Linked DNA regions of Homo sapiens: region 1 is linked to region 2. A link means that fine-mapping ties the variant in region 2 to the expression of a gene that starts in the linked region. Tissue or cell type: whole blood. Region 2 holds a variant in brackets; the other region holds the start of a gene. All regions are shown on one strand. Distances are from middle to middle.

Region 1 (2,843 bases), 74 kb before region 2:
TTCTCTGAAGTGCATCATGAAAAGTGGGTGGAGAGAAACACAGAAATCCAGAATTAGCCTAGCAAATCATTTTGGGAAGAGCTGACAACATGTAAATTCCTCACACATAAAGTATTTCGAGCAAGAGACCTTGATTCCTGGGCTATGATGCCATTCAGGATTCCTTGCAAAGGCTCTGGAATTCCAGTATTCATAAAAGAAAATGCTCATTATAATCGGAGCGTAAGAGGTACTCCCAACGTGACAGCCTGTATGAAGTATTACAAAGCTTACAGTTAAGATCTGGGATAGAGGCTGAACACCAAATTCAAAAGAGGTAACCAAGGCACTAAGTGCCATAAAGGAGGAAAGGGGAAGAAAAAAAAATCCACTATTGCCACTCAGCCACAGAGAATTAAAGTGGAAACCAGGGGTGTGCATGGGGGAGGATGAGGGGTGAGAAGTGCGGGGGGTGTGGTGGAGGAACAAACAATACATTTGTCACCCCGTCCCACTTCCTATAGAGGATACAGGCAAAGCCTCCAGCCTCATTACCTCGGACACAGATGGTTATCGTTTATAGCAAAGGTGCACAAAAAGGCCTTCAGGTCTGAGCCCCTTAATTCCAGGGCTGTTAATGATTAAAGAGAACGATGGGGGTGGGGAGGGAAATGAGGGCGGAGGGAGCTGGGAGATTCACCCACCACCTCCCCCTAGGGCTCCTACCTCACAGCGCTCACCCAGGACAGAGGACCAGAGTCTGCACCCCCTCCAGGGCAGCTCCAACCCCATATCCCCAGGCCCTGGGTTGAGGGGTGCTGGCGGTGGGGAGGCAGGGACAGTAGGTAAGTTTTCTGAGCCCTGCGGCTGACACGCCACAGGCTCCCCTCACAGCCTCTTCTTTCAGAGGTACCACTCCAGACAACGCGCTGACTTCCACTCCTCCCTTTCCACCCCCCTTTCTCGAAGGTACCCAACCCCCGCCCCTTCATCTCTCAATGCCCCCCCGCCTTTTCCTCAACTCCCCCCCTCCCCAAAACTCACAGCTGCTCCAGAGGTTCCTCCAGTCAAACCCTTTCTGGAAACGACGGCGGCCCGGCGGGTCCAAACCACCTACCATCCCCGCTCGCGTTTCCAGGCTCCCTACCCCCGCCGCCGCCGCCTCTTCTTCCACCACTGCCACCGCCTCCTCTTCATCTGCGGCCCACCGGCGGCGGCCGCCCCGAAGCCCCGCCCCCTCCATCGCCTCCTGCATCATCACTTCCGGTAACCCCGCCGGCCGCCAGCTCCAGGAGGGAGAATGGGAGAGGGGCAAGGAGGGAACGAGTGGAAGATTGCGTCACGACGCACATAAAGACGTACGAAGCCGTCGCCAAGTAAGGGCAAAGACCTAGCAACCCGGAGGGAGCTGGGCTGGACCATTTTTTTTTCTTGTTTTACGGGAATGGAGCGGGGAGGATAATGAAAGCGTAAAGGAAAAATAGGGGGAGGAGGAGCTCAGCTTATTGTTGGATGCGGCGGGAGATGGGTAGAGTCAGTCAGTCGAGACTCCCCCAGACCTGGAACTGGTGCTCCCACAGAGGTGGGCCCGGTGGTTTGGTCCGGCCTGGCCTACTGGACCAGCCTGTGCTCGGTCGGCCACGGCTCTGCTGGGCTCCTGGCGCCGCCTCCTCCCAGCCCGCCGCGGGCTGCGCGCTTCTGTGGGTGGGGGAAGGCAGGACTGACGCAGAGTGAGTGTAGGGGATGGAGGCGCCGACTCCAGGCGCGGGAGACTGGCGGGGAAGGGGTTGGCTCCCCACGGGCAGGGATGGTTTGGAGGTTGGGCTGCGGCGTTGCCGGGAGACGGGCCTGTGTGACCCCAGCTTCGCGGGGGCGGCTCGGTGTCATCGCCACCGGCCTCGGGGACCTGCCTCACGGAAGTGGCTCGCGCGTCCAAGAGGGGAGGCCTGGTGTGGGGACGCTCAGGTGCCGGCGTGGGGCCCCCTCGGAGGCTGTGAATCTTTTGGACCCCCGAATGTAAATGGGAGATGGTAGGGGCCGGTCCGGGGGCGAGAGGTGTCTGGCTGGGGAACGTTGACCCACACCAGGTCCCGTACAGGAACGGAGACTCCCTAGGACCGTGAGAGCCAGCTTCGTAATTCTCTTGCTCTTCAAACCTGAGAGTAGGGTGTTGCTCCGTTACCTTCCATTCGTGTGCAGGAGAGAGTTAAGTAAATCAATAAAGAAGGTATCAGCAAGTGAGAAATGCCCCCCAAAGACCGGATGAGGTGACAGAAGATGGGGGGAGGGCCCCTCGAAATCGGGTAAGGTCGTTCAAAGGAGGCCACGGTTTTGCGGGGATCCGAGACAATGGGTTTTCTGGGTGGAGAGAAGAGCCAATGAGAAGGACTTTTAGGTTGGAAACAGCCAGAAGGCCATGTGGCTGAAGCAAACAGAGCCAGGGCCGGAGTGCCCTGTGATGTAGTTGGGGAAGTGGCATGACTGTAGCAGCGCCTTTTAGCCCAAGGCAGGGGTTTGGCTAATGTGTACCTTAAGGGTTTTAAGAAGGGAAGTGACCTGACCTGATTTACATTTTTAAAAATCCGCTCTGCCTGCTGGATAGAGAAGGGTGGAAGTAGTTAGACCTGTTAGGAGACTGTTGCACTGTAAGACAAAGGAGAGGTGAAGATAGTGTTGAAAGGGCCGGCCGGGCGCGGTGGCTCACGCCTATAAACCCAGTACTTTGGGAGGCCTAGGCGGGCGGATCACGAGGTCAGGAGATCGAGATCATCCTGGCCAACATGGTGAAACCCCATCTCTACTAAAAATACAAAAATCAGCTGGGCGTAGTGGCACGCGCCTGTAATCTCTGCTACTCAGGAGAA
Region 2 (2,500 bases):
GAGAGAATTTTCTGTTAAGTGGGGGCATAGGTTCAAGTATGTTAAGGTAAGTGCCATGAACCTTGGCTTCTAATCCCACTAACCATGCAGCTCTGGAAAGTCAATTTACCACTGAACCTCAATGCTGTCAACTCTCATATGCCCATGTCTGTCATTCTTTTTTTTTTCTTTTTGAGATAAGGTCTTGCTCTGTCACTGAGGCTGGAGTGCATTGGTGCGATCTCAACGCACTGTAACCTCTACCTCTCGGGTTCAAGAAATTCTCCCACCTCAGCCTCCTGAGTAGCTGGGATTACAAGCATGTGCCACCACACCCAGCTAATTTTTGTATTTTTAGTAGAGATAAGGTTTTGTCATGTTGGCAAGGCTGTTCTCAAACACCTGACCTCAAGTGATCTGCCCACCTTGGCCTCCTGAAGTGCTGGGATTACAGGCATGAGCCACCTTTCCCGGCCCTATCTGTCATTCTGAAGTCTCAAAGTAGTTGTAATGCTCAAATGTAACCATGTACTTCAAAGTGCTTTGTGAAATATACAACATCACATCAGTGCTAATTGAAGAAGTAGATTTTCTTCTACTACGTGAACGTAGGTCAAGCCCTTACCAGGACTATTTCCTCTCTGGCACAAGAATCACCTTCAAGCGGGTTTCCTCTAGGTTCCACATTCTGTCATCCAACAAATATTTATTCCACGCCTACAACACGCCAGGCATAATTTAGCAAAAATACAATGGAGACGAAGGAAACAGCCATGTGGATATCAAAAGGAAGGGCATTCTGTGTAGAGGGAACAGCCAGTTCTTAGGCTCTGGGGTGGGAGTGCGGCTTATGATTATTTAACAAATAGCTAGGAGACCAACATGGCCAGAGTACAGGGAATGAAGGAAAAGTGGTAAAACATGAGGTCAAAACATATTGGGTCTTTTTGTTTGTTTGTTTTTGAGACTGGGTCTTGCTCTGTCACCCAGGCTGGAGTGCAGTGGTGCGACCTGGACCCACTGTAGCCTCGACCTCCTGGGCTCAGGACCCTCCCACCTCAGTCTCCTGAGTAGCCGGGACCATAGGTGCATGCCACCACAGCTGGCTAATTTTTTTTTACATTTTTTGTAGAGATGGGGTTTGCCATGTTGCCCAGGCTGGTCTTGAACTTGGCTGGTCTTGAACTCCAGGACTCAAGCAATCCACCCACTCAGCCTCCCAAAGTACTGGGATTACAGGCATGAGCCACTGCCCCTGGCCACTTTGTTTTGTTTTGTTTTGTTTTTTAGACAACACAAGGTCTTGGTCAGCTACTCGGGAGGCTGAGGTGGGAGGATCACTTGAGTCCAAGTGTTCAAGGCTGCAGTGAGCTATGGATTGCAGTGGCACGATCCTAGTTCACTACAGCCTCAAACTCCTGGGCTCAAGCAATCCTCCCACATCAGCCTCCTGAGTAGCTGGGACTACATGGGTGTGCCACTACACCTGGCTGTTTTATAGT[G/GTTTT]TTTTTTTTTTTTTTTTTTTTTTGTAGAGACAGAATCTTGCTACGTTTCCCAGGCTGGTCTTAAACTCCGAGGCTCTGGCGATCCTCCTGCCTTTGTCTCCCAAAAATCTGGGATCACAGGTGTGAGCCACCACACCTGCCCATATGTTGGGTCTTAATGCTTCCTGGTTTCAGCGATGTTTCAGAACAACTTCCTTCATCACTTATCAGCTATGTGATGCTGGGAGAGTCGCCTACCCCTTATTATTATTATTATTTTTTTAGAGTTTCACTCTTGCCGCCCAGGCTGGAGTGCAGTGGTGCAATCTCAGCTCACTGCGACCTCTGCCTCCCAGGTTCAAGCAATTCCCCTGCCTCAGCTTCCTGAGTAGCTCGGATTACAGATGCACGCCACCACACCTGGCTAGTTTTTTTTTTTTTTTTTTTTTTTAAAGTAGAGATGAGGTTTCTTTATGTTGGTCAGGCTGGTCTTGAACTCCTAACCTCAGGTGATCCACCTCCCTTGGTCTCCCAAAGTGCTGGGATTACAGCTGTGAGCCACCATGCCCAGCCTTGCCTACCCTTTCTGAGCCTCACTTTTCTCATCCGTAAGATGGGTATAACCACGCTCATTCGGCAGCACCAGTTCCCTCCCTTTCTTCTCAGTCTTTCTACCTTGATTCCTTGGGCAATGGCAGCAGCAACATTGGCTTCTTTTTCATCTGCCTGCACCAGAAGTTTCTTTCCATCAGCTTCTCTCGTCTCCGCTTCAATTTTCACCATCATCTTGGCAGTTTCCTCGGAGGTGAGGATGAGTTGAGGTTGAAGAGCTGTCAGTTCTCTTTGCATAACCGCTACCTAGCAAGGAGAGAGGTGGGAGAAATCCAGGGTCAGCACTGAAAATGGCAAAGTAGACAAGAATTGAAATGATTCTCCAACCTATGACATAAGCAGAAAATATGTACTAATGATTTTGACATGGTCCTGGGTACAGATTCGTTTCCTAGTGATTATCTCATAGGTTTTTCAACACAGTTATT

The links. PIP is the estimated chance that this variant, and not a neighbour inherited with it, causes the effect.
Region 1: it holds the start of LYRM1, and the variant in region 2 is fine-mapped to the expression of LYRM1 in whole blood (INTERVAL, PIP above 0.99).

The regions. Positions count from the first base shown.
Region 1 is chr16:20,899,181-20,902,023 of GRCh38, forward strand. LYRM1 (LYR motif containing 1) reads left to right here and starts at 1,591. Exons shown (of 4, transcript NM_001128302.3): 1 at 1,591-1,709. It overlaps DCUN1D3 (defective in cullin neddylation 1 domain containing 3), which reads right to left and starts at 1,178. Exons shown (of 3, transcript NM_173475.4): 1 at 1,024-1,178. RefSeq lists enhancers at 738-787, 997-1,782, 1,783-2,568.
Region 2 is chr16:20,973,098-20,975,597 of GRCh38, forward strand. It overlaps DNAH3 (dynein axonemal heavy chain 3), which reads right to left. Exons shown (of 62, transcript NM_001347886.2): 51 at 2,136-2,318. Among named protein-coding and RNA genes, the nearest start is that of LYRM1, 74 kb to the left of the region's middle. RefSeq lists an enhancer at 625-1,125. The variant G/GTTTT (reference allele first, on the strand shown) is at 1,482.